Homo sapiens: one gene and its partners. The protein of the gene in region 1 interacts with the protein of each later gene in a biochemical or structural test. Each region holds a gene or a part of one and is shown on either strand. Other genes may lie near its edges.

What was found. Proteins that work in one complex are often made in the same cells at the same time.
Region 2: the proteins of PLXNB1 (region 1) and FRMPD2 interact in a test that uses a peptide from one of them, tested with the Homo sapiens proteins (one large-scale study listed by IntAct).
Region 3: the proteins of PLXNB1 (region 1) and APBA2 interact in a test that uses a peptide from one of them, tested with the Homo sapiens proteins (one large-scale study listed by IntAct).
Region 4: the proteins of PLXNB1 (region 1) and ARHGAP21 interact in a test that uses a peptide from one of them, tested with the Homo sapiens proteins (one large-scale study listed by IntAct).

What each region holds. Positions count from the first base shown.
Region 1 is NC_000003.12:48,420,087-48,423,586, reverse strand, and holds part of PLXNB1 (plexin-B1 precursor), read left to right. Parts: coding exon 1-82; intron 83-639; coding exon 640-822; intron 823-1,127; coding exon 1,128-1,256; intron 1,257-1,381; coding exon 1,382-1,482; intron 1,483-1,780; coding exon 1,781-1,913; intron 1,914-2,202; coding exon 2,203-2,359; intron 2,360-2,630; coding exon 2,631-2,739; intron 2,740-2,813; coding exon 2,814-2,922; intron 2,923-3,329; coding exon 3,330-3,500. UniProt on the Homo sapiens protein: Receptor for SEMA4D. Plays a role in GABAergic synapse development. Mediates SEMA4A- and SEMA4D-dependent inhibitory synapse development. Plays a role in RHOA activation and subsequent changes of the actin cytoskeleton.
Region 2 is NC_000010.11:48,180,697-48,184,196, forward strand, and holds part of FRMPD2 (FERM and PDZ domain-containing protein 2), read right to left. Parts: intron 313-3,500; coding exon 107-312; intron 1-106.
Region 3 is NC_000015.10:29,098,974-29,102,473, reverse strand, and holds part of APBA2 (amyloid-beta A4 precursor protein-binding family A member 2), read right to left. Parts: intron 876-3,500; coding exon 690-875; intron 1-689. UniProt on the Homo sapiens protein: Putative function in synaptic vesicle exocytosis by binding to STXBP1, an essential component of the synaptic vesicle exocytotic machinery. May modulate processing of the amyloid-beta precursor protein (APP) and hence formation of APP-beta.
Region 4 is NC_000010.11:24,717,388-24,720,887, reverse strand, and holds part of ARHGAP21 (rho GTPase-activating protein 21), read left to right. Parts: intron 1-3,500. UniProt on the Homo sapiens protein: Functions as a GTPase-activating protein (GAP) for RHOA and CDC42. Downstream partner of ARF1 which may control Golgi apparatus structure and function. Also required for CTNNA1 recruitment to adherens junctions.

The DNA.
Region 1 (3,500 bases):
CCGGGAGGGTCGTGCTGAGGATGGGACCGAGGTGGCCTACATCGAGTATGATGTCAATTCTGACTGTGCACAGCTGCCAGTGGTGAGTTCCAGTATTGCCCCACTTTTCCGCCTCTCTGAGGCCACTGGCCAAGCATTTGCAGCCAAGGAGCTGCCCAGAGAGTCCGAGGGCAGCTGGTGGTAGCACGAGGATGATCAGATCAGCAAATATTAAGTGCTTCCTATGTTGCCTGGGCAGTGGAAGGGTACCTTACCACAAATCTGGCATGCGGGTGGCAGCAGTGTCTGGATGGGCTTGGACCAGGATGCTGGAGGGGTGGCACTTGTGTCGGTGGATTGGGAGGGTGTTTGGGGGTTCTTGGGTAGGGACAGGGACCTAGAATGGAATGAGACCTTTGGTTCTTGAGCAGGAGAGGAAGGTGAGGTCGGGATTGATGAGCTGTAGCCTCAGGATGGATAAAAAAGGGAAGAGAGACTGGGGGCGGGGATGAGATTGTCCCAGGAGGGCCAGCAGAGAAAACACAGTTGTACAGGGAGAGCTACCAGAGCGGCTGGGGGAGGGAATGAGGTTGTCCAGGGACGATGCGGCCGAGGAGGTTATCCAGGGAGGGCCTTCCTGATGCTTCTTGCTGCCTATAGGACACCCTGGATGCTTATCCCTGTGGCTCAGACCACACGCCCAGCCCCATGGCCAGCCGGGTCCCGCTGGAAGCCACACCAATTCTGGAGTGGCCAGGGATTCAGCTAACAGCTGTGGCAGTCACCATGGAAGATGGACACACCATCGCTTTCCTGGGTGATAGTCAAGGGCAGCTGCACAGGGTGAGCCCACAGGAAGTACTGGCCCCTGCCCCAGAGTCTGGAGGGAACAGATTGCTAGGGACCCAGCCTGGTTTAAGCTATCCCTGTGACCCCTGGGCCAGGAGAGATGACCTGAGCTCCTCTCCCCAGGACTGGGTGGTGTTTACCTGTGACTTTCCTCCATCCCCGCTAGGCCAGTTGGTATGACCTGTGACTGCCTAGGAGGAAATTCTATTTGTAAATTACTTCGATTGGGTGGAGGAGGGGAGGGCTTTGGGCCTCTGGCCATGGACTTGGGTCCCAGACCCTGTGGTCTCTGATCCCAGGTCTACTTGGGCCCAGGGAGCGATGGCCACCCATACTCCACACAGAGCATCCAGCAGGGGTCTGCAGTGAGCAGAGACCTCACCTTTGATGGGACCTTTGAGCACCTGTATGTCATGACCCAGAGCACAGTGAGTGCCAGGCACAAGCCAGGGCATGGCTGCTGGGAGGGGCCTCTGGGTGGGGCCAGGGACCCACTTGTGGGTGAGCCACTGGTGTTTGGATTGCTGGCCTCAGGTCCTCTTTGCTGTCTCAGCTTCTGAAGGTTCCTGTGGCTTCCTGTGCTCAGCACCTGGACTGTGCATCTTGCCTTGCTCACAGGGACCCATACTGTGGGTGGTGCGTGCTCCTTGGCAGGTCAGATTTCTGACCCCATCCCAGCCCCAGCCTCAAGCCCACAATGCTCCTGCATAATTGTCCTGTCCAGAATTCCTGACCCTTAGACCATGACTCTCAACCCCTGATCCCCAGACACCCCAATTCCTCACCCCCATCCTCTGCACTGGGCATCAGTGCCCTGCCAGGGCAGACACAGGAGCCTCTATCATGCCCACTCTAGGGCCCTGCCCAGGTCCTCCAGATTGTAGGAGTCCCTACCCTATGAACTCCCAGTGGCCCATGAGGGTCACAGATAGACACTGGTCATCTCGCCCAGGTGCAGTCGCCGTTCTGAGTGCTCGAGGGGCCAGGGCCCAGAGCAGTGGCTATGGAGCTTCCAGCCTGAGCTGGGCTGTCTGCAAGTGGCAGCCATGAGTCCTGCCAACATCAGCCGAGAGGAGACGAGGGAGGTGAATGATCAGATAGGCAGGGCCCTGGTGGGGAGGGCTCTGGGCATCAAGGTCTGGGTAGAGATCTTGGATCCTGATGTCGGACATGCCAGATACCACATGGCCTCACACAAGTCACTTCTTTTAGGAGCTCAGTTTCCCCATCTATTTCTAACTCAGGCCAGAGGGTGTTTGGGGAGGCCTGAGGGCTGTTGATTGCTGGTGCCTGCCCACATTGGGTGTCCCATAAATGTGAGCCCTGGTCTGCTGCCCACTAGCCCCAACAGTGTGTCCCTGGCTCTCTTGGCAGGTTTTCCTATCAGTGCCAGACCTGCCACCCCTGTGGCCAGGGGAGTCATATTCCTGCCACTTTGGGGAACATCAGAGTCCTGCCCTGCTGACTGGTTCTGGTGTGATGTGCCCCTCCCCAGACCCTAGTGAGGCCCCAGTGCTGCCGAGAGGAGCCGGTGGGTGAGAGAATGGGCCAGCCTGGTGGGGGCCAGCCCCTGCTTCAGGGGATGCGGTGGGGTTAAAGTGTGAATCCAGGCAAAGAGCCATGAATGGATGCCTTTCTCTGGGTCCTCCCACTCCCCAACCACCTGAAGCCTCCATTCTGTGCCCTTGGACTGTATTCCCTCATCCCGGGTCCTCTTCCCCATTCAAGGGCTCAGGATATCGGCTCTGGGTCTGAGTGCACCTCCTTGCTGCTTAACCCTGGCCCTCTCTCCCCCTCTGCAGACTACGTATCCGTGAGCGTGGAGCTCAGATTTGGCGCTGTTGTGATCGCCAAAACTTCCCTCTCTTTCTATGACTGTGTGGCGGTCACTGAACTCCGCCCATCTGCGCAGTGAGTTCCTCGCCCTGTCCCCAGGCCTGGGCTTCCCTGTGGCGACCCTTGCCCCATGGCTGTGCTCTGTGCAGGTGCCAGGCCTGTGTGAGCAGCCGCTGGGGGTGTAACTGGTGTGTCTGGCAGCACCTGTGCACCCACAAGGCCTCGTGTGATGCTGGGCCCATGGTTGCAAGCCATCAGGTGAGTGTGACTTTGGGCTGGGCCATACCGGGGGGGTTGGGGGTCCCAGTGTGAGAGTTTTTCTCATGGCCCGGGGTCTGTCTGCCTATGTGAGGCTCTGTCCTGAGCACCAGAGCCGCTGTATGTGACGGACTCCCTGGAGAACAGCCGCCGATACATCCCGCCTGTTTTGGGAGAGGGCATTTGTAGCTGAGAGGCAGGGGATGTCTGGCCTTCATGCCCCACCTCGGCACAGACACCCCTGGAGCCTTCCCCCGCAGTTTTCTCCAGTGGAGAATTAATGGGCTGTTTTTATTTCTCTTTTCCTTGGTCTCCTTTCCTCTTAACATACACTGTGCCTGCCTGCCTCCTGTCCCGCGCCTGCCTGCTGAGTGGCCCTTCCTGTCTTCCTCTGCCTCCCCCTTCAGAGCCCGCTTGTCTCCCCAGACCCTCCTGCAAGAGGTGGACCCAGCCCCTCCCCACCCACAGCCCCCAAAGCCCTGGCCACCCCTGCTCCTGACACCCTTCCCGTGGAGCCTGGGGCTCCCTCCACAGCCACAGCTTCGGACATCTCACCTGGGGCTAGTCCTTCCCTGCTC
Region 2 (3,500 bases), on another chromosome or scaffold:
CTGACATGGAAAACAGAGAACAGGAAGGGCCTAGGGGCCAGGCTGTTGGGCTTCACAGTCTGTTCTCTTTCATCCAGATCTAGAAAGTAAACCAAGGGATGATTACCTTTAACGGCAGAAAGGAAAGCTGATGTCTCAGCCTGGGCACTAAGCTCTGCACCCCAGCCATGTCTAGTTCTTCAGTATTTCTGTCCTGGTCTTGTGTGTGTGACAACAAACTTCCCTGGTACCCGAAGCTCAGGATGTCTGTAGAGGAGACCCCAGAATTGGCTGTGCTATTCTTTTCTTCATCTGGGTTATTTCCACCAACACCTATAAAAACAAGCCAAGAAAAAGTCAACAGCTTAAAAAGGCCGGTTTCTTGGTGGCATCTCTATGTGGGCACAGCGTTTTCCTCCAGTGACAGAGTGATCGTTTATAGCTGCTCGGGTACAATATGAATTTAGCTCCTCCTGAAAGATGTTACATTTAGATTAGAGAAAGGGAAGATTCTACATGGGATTTAGAAACCTAGATAGAGCTTACGTGACCCAACTATGAATGCGTAGGCTCAAAAGAAGTTCATAAGGCCAGCTATCCCTTATTAAGCTCTAGCCATGTGATGGGCACCTTAGATATACATATAGGAAGATATGGACATCTTCCCATCTTCTCAGCAAACCCACCAGGAAGGTGTAATCCCAGTTCAAACATGAGAAAACAGAGTCAAAGCTATTAAGTGTCCTGCCCCAAATGCTACAGCCAGCATGTGGGAACTGTCTTAAACCCAGCCTCTCCTGGACACCCCACTGAGCACATCTGCAGCCACCATGTGATCCAAAAACCAACGTATCAGGTCCTTTTGGGAGGCTTGGTAATAACCAAACTGCAGGCCCCTGTGAGTGAAAGCTAGGCCACTGATTCCTGCTCACCCTGTGTCTGACTCGTGACCTGGCATAGAACAAAGAAAAGAACGTGAGGTTGTGAATCAGTAGAAAAACCTTGGGCAAGGTGCTTAACATAACTGAACCTAAATTTTCCTGTATCTAAAGTAGAGATAATATCAATATCAATAATATTGTAGAGTTGGTGAGGCTTAGAGATTATACGTACAGAAAAGATTTTACATATGTTAAGAAAGATAAAAATATATATGTATATATGAAAGAATATATATTCCCTCATATATATATATATATATATGGCTCTCATACACACACACACACACACACACACAGACACGCACAGCTTAGTACATGGTAGAGCCTCAATAAATGTATCTACTGTTAACATGTTATTATTAGCTGCTCCACAAATATATGTGGGAGGAATGAATAACAGTTAGATTTTCTTTAGACCTGGATACAAGTAGATTTACTACTTTTGATACAGACTCATTAACACTCAGGGAAGTGCCCAAACTCACATGCTGAATGAATTCAATTTAAATAAATCTGATTTAATGAATTTGATTTGAAGTTATTCAAATCTAAAGGTATCCAGCAGGGAGTGGCAGGGCCACTGTTTCATAATGCTGTATTTCTGGCCCTTTCATTCACAGATTCTGTCATCATTGTCCTTCTGGCAGTGTCATAAGCATCGGCTCATTCTCTTCCACATCCTCCATGAGAGGTGAGGATGGGACTTACGATTGAAATGAAAAGTCAAACCATGCTGCAACTGGTGTCCTGCCTAGTAGACATATGAGCTGGGAGACCTTTTTTGGTAAAGGAAACTCAATTTATTGTAGACCATGACAGATGCTCATGATGGACATTTTATCTGTCTGATCCTGATCTCCAATCTAGCCCAGCTGCCTTAACAGCAGCCTAAAGAGATAGAAGAAAGTCATGGTAGTCAAGTCTCTGCCACGGAGACCCAGCCAGCATCACCAAGGAAACATCTTCCTCTGGCAGTGGCCCAGCTATGAGGAAACCCCACCATGATGAAGGCAGCATTGCCAAAAGGTGGCTGGGGTGCCACAGTGAAAGGACATTTTATTCCCAGCCATTGTGGGAAACTCATTGTCTGGAATTCTAATGTGAGGTTGTGGTTTGAGAATAGCAGACCTCGAGTACTGCTTTTTGACAACCTCCATCACAGCAGGCCATCCTTGGACTATGCTGAATTGTGATTTGGTCACCTGCATTGTGTTTCCTGACAACACATGGGATGGTTTGACTGCTCCTGTCAGTGGAGGATGTGGAAGAAAACACAGGGATTGCTGAACCACTGCAGAAAGGAGAGCAGTGGTGCTGGGAAATCCAACAGACAGCAAGCCAGAGACTGGCATTGGAGATGTACTGAGGCCAGTCCCTGAGAAGGCTTCAACCCCAGGATGAAGGGTGTGGGGCTGAGACCCCAGCATGGCCACCTTCCACCACCCATAGCTTCTGGACAGGGGAGCTGCATGGCACTGTGTACAGGTACAAGAGTGAGAGAGCATGCATGCAGAAGTGTTCAGAAGGCAAGGCAAATGCAGTGCCTGCATTTAGTACCTAGAAAATGCTGGCTGGTGTGACAGGAAGTTCTCCTGTATACAAGGGAAAACTGTACAACACCCCTCAAGTGTGAAGAAGCAATCATGAGCCTGAATTTGCAGGCGGTCTGCTGTTAGTTTACAGGATCACCCAACCAAAAAGCAGCATTGGTCTCAGGAAACTAGGGAGAAGGGATGTTAGCCTACTCCCATTACTTCCTCCAGGCTCCTCAAGCTTGGTCCCGATAAAAACAATAGTATTTTCCTTTAATATAGGCAGTTGTTGCTCTCTCATTCTTATCTAAAGGATGAAGAAAAGCATCATCAAAAAGTACTTTACTCTTTAGGTTGATCAGGAACATGCACATCAAGTAAGAAGAGCGAGCTTGCCACGAAAATTCAGCTTTAAGAAAAGGCCAGGTGCAGTGGCTCATGCCTGTAATCCCAGCACTTTGGGAGGCTGAGGCGGGCAGATCACTTGAGTTCAGGAGTTCCAGACCAGCCTGGCCAACATATTGAAACCCCGTCTCTACTAAAAAATACAAAAATTAGCCGGGTGTGGCAGCGCGTGCCTGTAATCCCAGCTACTCAGGAGGCTGAGGCAGGAGAATTGCTTGAACCCAGGAGGTGGAGCCTGCAGAAAGCCAAGATCGTGCCATTGCACTCCATCCTGGGTGAAAGAGTGAGACTCCATCTCAAAAAAAAAAAAGGAAAATCAAATACCGCATGTTCTCATTTACAAGTGGGAGCTAAATAATGAGAACCCATGATCACAAAGAGGGGAACAACACACACCAGAGCCTACTTGAGGGAGGAGGATGGGAGGAGAGAGAGGATCAGGAAAAATAACTATTGGGCACTATGCTGAGCACCTAGGTGATGAAATGGTCTGTATAGCAACCCCTGTGACACGAGTTTGCCTGTAATAACAAACCTACACATGTAGCCCTAAACCCAAAACAAAAGATTAACAAAGAACAGTGCTTGTCTCCTCCCCAGCTGATTGCTATACCTATACAAAATATAGAAATTTTGTATAGGA
Region 3 (3,500 bases), on another chromosome or scaffold:
CATAGATCATATTTTAAAATTTCACTCTGGCAACAGCCACAAAACTGGCTCACCAGCAGCGCCCCCTGCTGGTCTGTGAGTAAGATCAGCCTCCAGGAAGGACAGTTCCTCTCTGAGCTCCCCTCTTGGCCCTGCTGCTCCTTCCTCAGCCCCTCTGTCCCCCTCCAGGCTAAAAACAACACTCTTCTCCAGCCAAGGAGGGAGCCAAAGGGCTTGTGATCTTTTCCTGAGTCTTTGGTATCTTATACTTCAGAATCACTTTTTACTTCCTCTGAAGACCACACGCAAAGGCAGAACTAAGCCTCATGTGCAGATGTGCTTTCTTTATACAGCATGCCAGGGCCATGCGAAAATTTGCATTTTAATAACAAAAGTTATGCAAAGATTAACTTCATTTTTAGTAGAGAAAATGTTTTGTAAAGGGATTTCTTCAAATAGCTCCCTCATATATTTAACCACAACTCAATTTATAAACAGCTCCTGAAGAACCTATTTCAAGAAGTAGAATAAAACTGTATTCACTATCTTTGCAAACCCAAAGAGTATGCAAAAGATCACTGATCCACTGGAAACATCAGTAACAGCATGGAGGCTTTCCACCTGAGGGTGGTTTCCACAGCGCCTGGATCCTGGAGCCGCCCTGGGCTGTGAACTTTGGGAGGGGAGTGCCCTGGCAAGGGCTTACTTACATCCTCCGACTCGAACACATGGCAGATCATCTTATACTGCTTCTTGCCTTCCTGGGCCCCGGGCGTGGTCTCGATGCAGTCCTGAGAGGCTGACCGGGGCATGCGGCGTCTGGCCATCAGCACTACAATGTTCCCAATGTCGGCGATGTAGGAGATGGTACGCAAGGCGTGGTCCATCATGGTTTCCTGTCGGGAGGGAGACAGTGCCACGTCAGGGAACACTACTGGGACAATCCATTGAAAAGTACTCCAGGGCTGGGCATGGTGGCTCAAGCCTGTAATCCTAGCACTTTGGGAGGCCGAGGCAGGCAGATCACCTGAGGTCAGGAGTTCAAGACCAGCCTGGCAAACATGGTGAAACCCCATCTCTACTAAAAATATAAAATAAATAGTTGGGCGTGGTGGCAGGTGCCTGTAATCCCAGATACTCAGGAGGCTGAGGCAGGAGAATCGCTTGAACTGTGAAGGCAGAGGTTGCATCGAGCCGAGATTGCGCCACTGCACTCCAGCCTGGGCAACAAGAGCAAAACTCCGTCTCAAAAAAAAAGAAAGGAAAAAAAAAAAAAAGGCACTCCAATTATTCGGGTTTCGCAACCCTGATTCTCCTGACATTTGGGGCCGGATCATTCTTTATTGTGGAGGGCTGTCATGTGCACTGCAAGGTGTTAGGAGCATTCCAAGCCTCTCCCCAGGAGATGCCAGTAGCACCTCCCTCTTCCCAAGTGTGAGAATGAAAATTATTTCCAGCCATTGCTAAATGTCCCCTGAGGGACAAAAATCACACTGGTTGAGAACCACGGCCCTAATTAACAGAGCGTTTTAGGGTAATGATTTACAGTCAAAGTCACTCTGCCCTCATCTCAGTCCCAGCTTCCAAAATGGACTGTGCAGAACCCAGGGAGGCGTGATGTCAGGTGAGCTCTCGGGCTGTCTCTGCTGGAGCAGGGGCTTGCCATATAGTGAAACCCATACATTCCCGGATGAGAGGCCACCAGTGGCTCTGGAGAAGGGTCCCTTCTGAACGAGGTGCTCTCCTATGGGCCCAAGAGTGGCCTGGCCTGGCCTTCCTGCTGTGCAGAAGAGGAAAGCATCAAGGCCAATGTTTGTCATTCAATGAGCTCTTCCCAGGGAGCCCAAACAGCCTGGGCCTGGGTCAAAAGACACCAAGGTAGCCCACCTGACTTCAATTCCCTCGGCCTCTGGCAGGCCCATGACTCTTGATGGTTTTTTGTCCTTGGACAGGAATCTCCAGCCAGCATCTTGCCCACAACCCCTACCTAACAAGACTGCACACAAAGCTCAAAAAAACTAATCAACTGGTCTTTTATGCTTTTGTCCTCTGTTCACAAAAGAAACTCGAGTGTTTCTGCAACCTCTGGACCTCATTTCTTCCTCACAGAATCCACTTTGCAGTGCATGCTGCTTCACCTTTGTCTCAGCTGCTGACTTTTTTTCTGGCCAAAGCCATGAGGCTGTTTCATAACCACAAGAGTCACCTTCCAGGGAGGGACACTGAAAGGAAACAGTTGGAGTGGCTCTTCAGCATCTCCTGATTTCTGTCACTGTCATAAATGCCTGAATCAATCCCCAGGTGTCAGAAACATGTTCCTTCCCCAGCTCCTATCAATGGCAGATCCCTCCTCCTCCTCACAGAGGCTGCCTACCAACATGGCCGCATCTGCTCTCCTGCTCTGAATGGCTACTTTGGCCTTCCCAGTCTCTCACCTGTTCCCTCCTCTCCAGCTCCTCTGCCCCAACAGCTTTAATTTGCATGCCCTGTCCAGAATCCAAAGATCCAGAAGGGAAAGGAAAGGAAGGGAGAAGGGGCCAGTGGAGTGAACCCTGAACTGGGCCAGCCTAGGAGATTTCTCATCTCTCCTTCACAGGATCCAGCGGAAGAGTTACTCTTTCAGCTGGGGCTGTGGGTATTAGGAGGTTCAGAGATGTTCAGGAACTTGTTTAAGGCTATACAGCTCATGAGGATGGGGCTCAGCTTCAATCCCCAAGCCCATCCTCCCACCCCAGGTGTGGCACCCTCCATGTACACTGGCAAGAAGAGGTACTGGGGCAGGCCTAGCAGCTGTACCCAGAAAGGCCCGCCTGCAAGGCTGGCCCTCTCTGGCATCTGGGAACGTGGATCTCAGGAGGGTACCCAGCACCCGAACTGACAACCATGGTTCCTTTTGCCTAAACCGTTTGTGCAAACAACGTGGTCTAGGCTGGACACCTCTTTTGCCTCTGGGAGTCTGGAATTTTGGTAGCTGCCAGGCAGAGGGTGCCTATGACCAACTCCCAGTAAACACCTTGGGCTGAGTGTCTATGAGCTTCCCTGGTAGACACAACTTCTCTGTTGTCACAGCCCCTTGCCAGGGAGTTCAGTGTGTCCTGTGTGACTGCGGGGAGGGCTCTGGAAGCCTGCATCCGCTTTGCTGATTCTGCTCTGGAGCCATCTGCTGAAATAAATCTCAGCTGTGAGCTCACTGAGTCCTGTCAGTCCTCCAAACCACCCAGCCTGTGGTGGTCTTGGGGACACCCAGCACAGGTGGGTGATGAGGCATGGGGCTCGGAGGGTTGGTGGGGGGATCTAGTCCAGATGGTTTGCCCACAAAAGATCAGAAAATGAAGTCAAAGTCTGTGAAGCGTCGCAAGCCCAGTGCCTGAGCCCTGGCACCTGTCTCCCTGAGTTTTCACCAAGTGCCAGGCTCCAGGAGGGGGCTGGTTCCAGGGTAGGGGGGTGCAGGACACAAAGATCAGTGGGACAAGGTGCAAGCCTGGACACAGGACAGACATGGGATGAGGAAGGGCGCCCCT
Region 4 (3,500 bases), on another chromosome or scaffold:
TATCCTTTAAATTTTACTTTTGAGATGCCTATGTTTTCATTGAAGGGTTGAGGATTACTTTAGACAATAACATACCCAAATGAACCCTCATTCACTGTCTCACTTTCTTTTGCACCGGATGTTAAATTTTAACTTCATAGTCCTTGAAACAAGGGCTGGCTCTAAGTGTGTGAGTTTTGGCATTTTAATAAAAATGAATCAGAAGTTAAATTTTGGTTCATAAAGCAAGCGGAGAAACTTGCTTCATGCAGCTTACTTCATGTCGAATTAGAAAGTTTATGCAGAAAACGTTGTGAGGTACAGTGTGCTATTACTGTACAATTTATTAGGCAGAACTGTAGGTTTACATTTAGAATCAGTGTTTTACTTTTTGACATCTGTAAACACCTGCTTGCAGGCAAAAGCATGATTAAGTGGAACACCACAATCCTCTGATCACGGTAAACCATAATAACTCCTTTTGGAAGGCCTACCTGCAACCTGGTGATTGCTTAATGTGTATTGCAGTTACATAATAATATGTATTGTGGTCCTGAAGCCTTATTTGTCATTGTCTTGTGAATACTTTAATTAGCATTGTATTTGCATTCTGTTTGCAAGAACTAATGTTATTTGATTTTTTTTTTTTTTTTTGGTCATTTAAGAGATGTCCTGAAACCAAGAATTTAGACACATCTTGTCCTTGGCTAGCAAGCAGTATTTCCAGTTTGTTGCACACTTGGCTTTTATTAACAATGACAGTTATGTATTTTTTAACGGCTGTGAAATTTGTTTTCATTTGGACCTTACTGCTGGCAGCATGGCTATCTTGTTTTTAAGTTTAGCAATGAAGAAAACACAATATCACCTGTGTTTTGCTTATGTGAAATATATATACAGTATTTAGGTTTGGTATTAAACTACAATATTATTTGACTTTCTAAAGAATAGGTATTTTGCCTAGATTCTATGTGGAAGTGGAAATAAAGGGGATATATGTTGTCAGAAAACATTTTAAAACCTCAGGGTTGGGAGTGAAGAGAACTTGTGTAATTATTGCCTGTATTTAGTTGTGACGTGTTTTAATCTGTGATTGATGCTTCTGATACACATTAAATCTTGTGAATATTTTTTAGTAATAGGGAGTTAGTTGCTAATGAAATACTTTGGGCTGATATTTAGGTTTTTGAACATTGCATTTAATTTTTGTCGTCAATTTTATTAGAAGCACTACATTCCACAGTGGTACTATCACTCTTTAAAAAATTTTAAAAATCAATAATGTGTTTGGATACTACATTTATTATTGTGTTTTTAACTAACAAAGAGATGAGCATGTGTGTCTTAATAGTAATGCTGTTAATCAGCCAAGAAAACCTAACTTTATAGGACAGAAGAAATCAATGTAATGAATTAACAGGAGTCTCTGTTTCATGCTTTATCTAATTAGCCAACTCCACCTTCTCTGAATAAGGCCTTGTGCTTTGTTGAAAAACAATCAGAGATTTCTTGTTCATCTTAAGCATTGCAATTTTATTGTGTTGATATATGATATACATTTAGGCCTCCCCACCCCCAGGATATATTGGAAGCCTCAAAACAAATAAACAGCCCTCTTCAAATAAGAAATTAGGACAGTTCAGTAGAATATGTCTTGGCATTATACAGTAAGGATGGTCCAGATGGTACTCACACGAATTTATATACTTTTATACATCTCAAGGTGTATTTTTAAAACTTGAAATCACTCACTCTGAACCTCTTAAGTGATTTTTGGGGTGTGTGTGTGTGTGTGTGTGTGTGTGTGTGTAGTCCGTGAAGTCTTCTGACACCAATCCTTGAGTAACTTTGCTCACAAAATCACTTTATATAGATTCTTCTGTTGAATCCTCTATGATATTATCACCCCTTTTCATATCCATATAGCTTCATCTTTCAAGGTTTAACTTTTTTTTTAAGCCAAAGAAGAGAAAACTTTCCCTCAGCTTTCTTAACCACATGATTTTTTTTCCATTTCTAACATTTATTTCATTTTTTATCTGTAGTCCATACTCTTGTCCAGTAATAGAATTTTTGTCACTTTATTATTAAACTTTTTACTAATGCAAATGAACTTATTTTTGTTTTGCTTCTTGACCTAGGCTAAGATTATTCTATGACTGAAATGTATTATGGCTGATGAAATACACTTGTTGGTTGATTTTGAAATACTGTAAACAATACAATAAGACATTTTTCTGGGTACGAGTTTGTATGAATCCATGTGTTGACTCTTCCTTCTGGAATGCTGGACAGTTTGCTTTTGCTTTCATCCCAGACTCCCTAGTTCCTTCTCAGGCGCTCTCTCTTCTCCTCCCCTCCTTTCTATCTCCCTCTCTATCTGCCTCTTTTGTAGGGTTTTTCTTCCTCTTCTTGCCCCATTGTTGGTTTTATCCAGAGCCAAGGCCTTTCCATTCCTGTATTCTCTTTCTCACTCCCTGGGTTTTATTTTGCACTCTCCTGTGTGCTGGTGACTCCGTATCTACCCCTCTATCTCAGGCTTTATGGTTGATCTCTAGACCTTTTCAGCCAGTTGCCTATTTACCGAACACTTTTGGGGGATATTCCCCAGGCATTGCAAACTCATCAGATTTCACCGCTACCGCTGACTCTCCCTCTTCCTGTGCACCTTCTTTCGCTGAGTAGCACTACCATCTATTTATTGGTCCAAGTCAAAAACTAGGTCAGCATTCTCACTCTTCCGTCTCGTCATTCCTCATATGCAAAGTCTTGTGGAGTCCACATTCCCAATACCCACTACCCCCACCTGAGTTCAGGTCAGCTGCATCTCACTGATGAACCACAGAAACAGATTCCCTACGGAGTTTCCCAATAACTTAGCCTTGTCCCCTTCCGCAGCTCTGTCCCTACTGTAATCAGAATGATCCTCCTGATGGGCAGATGACCTGAGGTCAGGAGTTGTACACCAGCCTGAGCAACATGGTGAAACCCGGTCCCTACTAAAAATACAAAAATTAGCTGGGCGTGGTGGCGCACACCTGTAGTCCCAACTGTTTGGAGGCTGAGGTATGAGAATCCTTGAACCCGGAAGGCAGAGGTTGCAGGTAGCCAAAATCGCGCCACTGTACTCCAGCTGATCGTTACATTACCTCCTATAAGACAATTTTCTGTCTTCCCATTTCCTTTGAAATAAAATTCAGACCTCTGTGAAGTCTGAAAGGACTTTGGTAATTTGGTCCGCGCTTCTGTCTCACTTGTTACTTCTTTTTGTTCTTCCTAGATTGAACTCCTGTCAGGTCCTTTCTTCTACCCTTCCCTCTACTGTCCCCTGTTCCTCCTCCCTCTGCTCCATGGCTGATTTTTACTCATCATACTGGTCTTTTCTTCAATACTGCTTCCTCAGGAAAGCCTTCCCTGACCCGCAAGACTCTTTCAGTTGCCCCTAGTGTATTCTCTCAAAACACCCTGCACTTTCAGGAATACCAGTTACAAGTTTATCTATATCCCCCTTGGATTGCAGT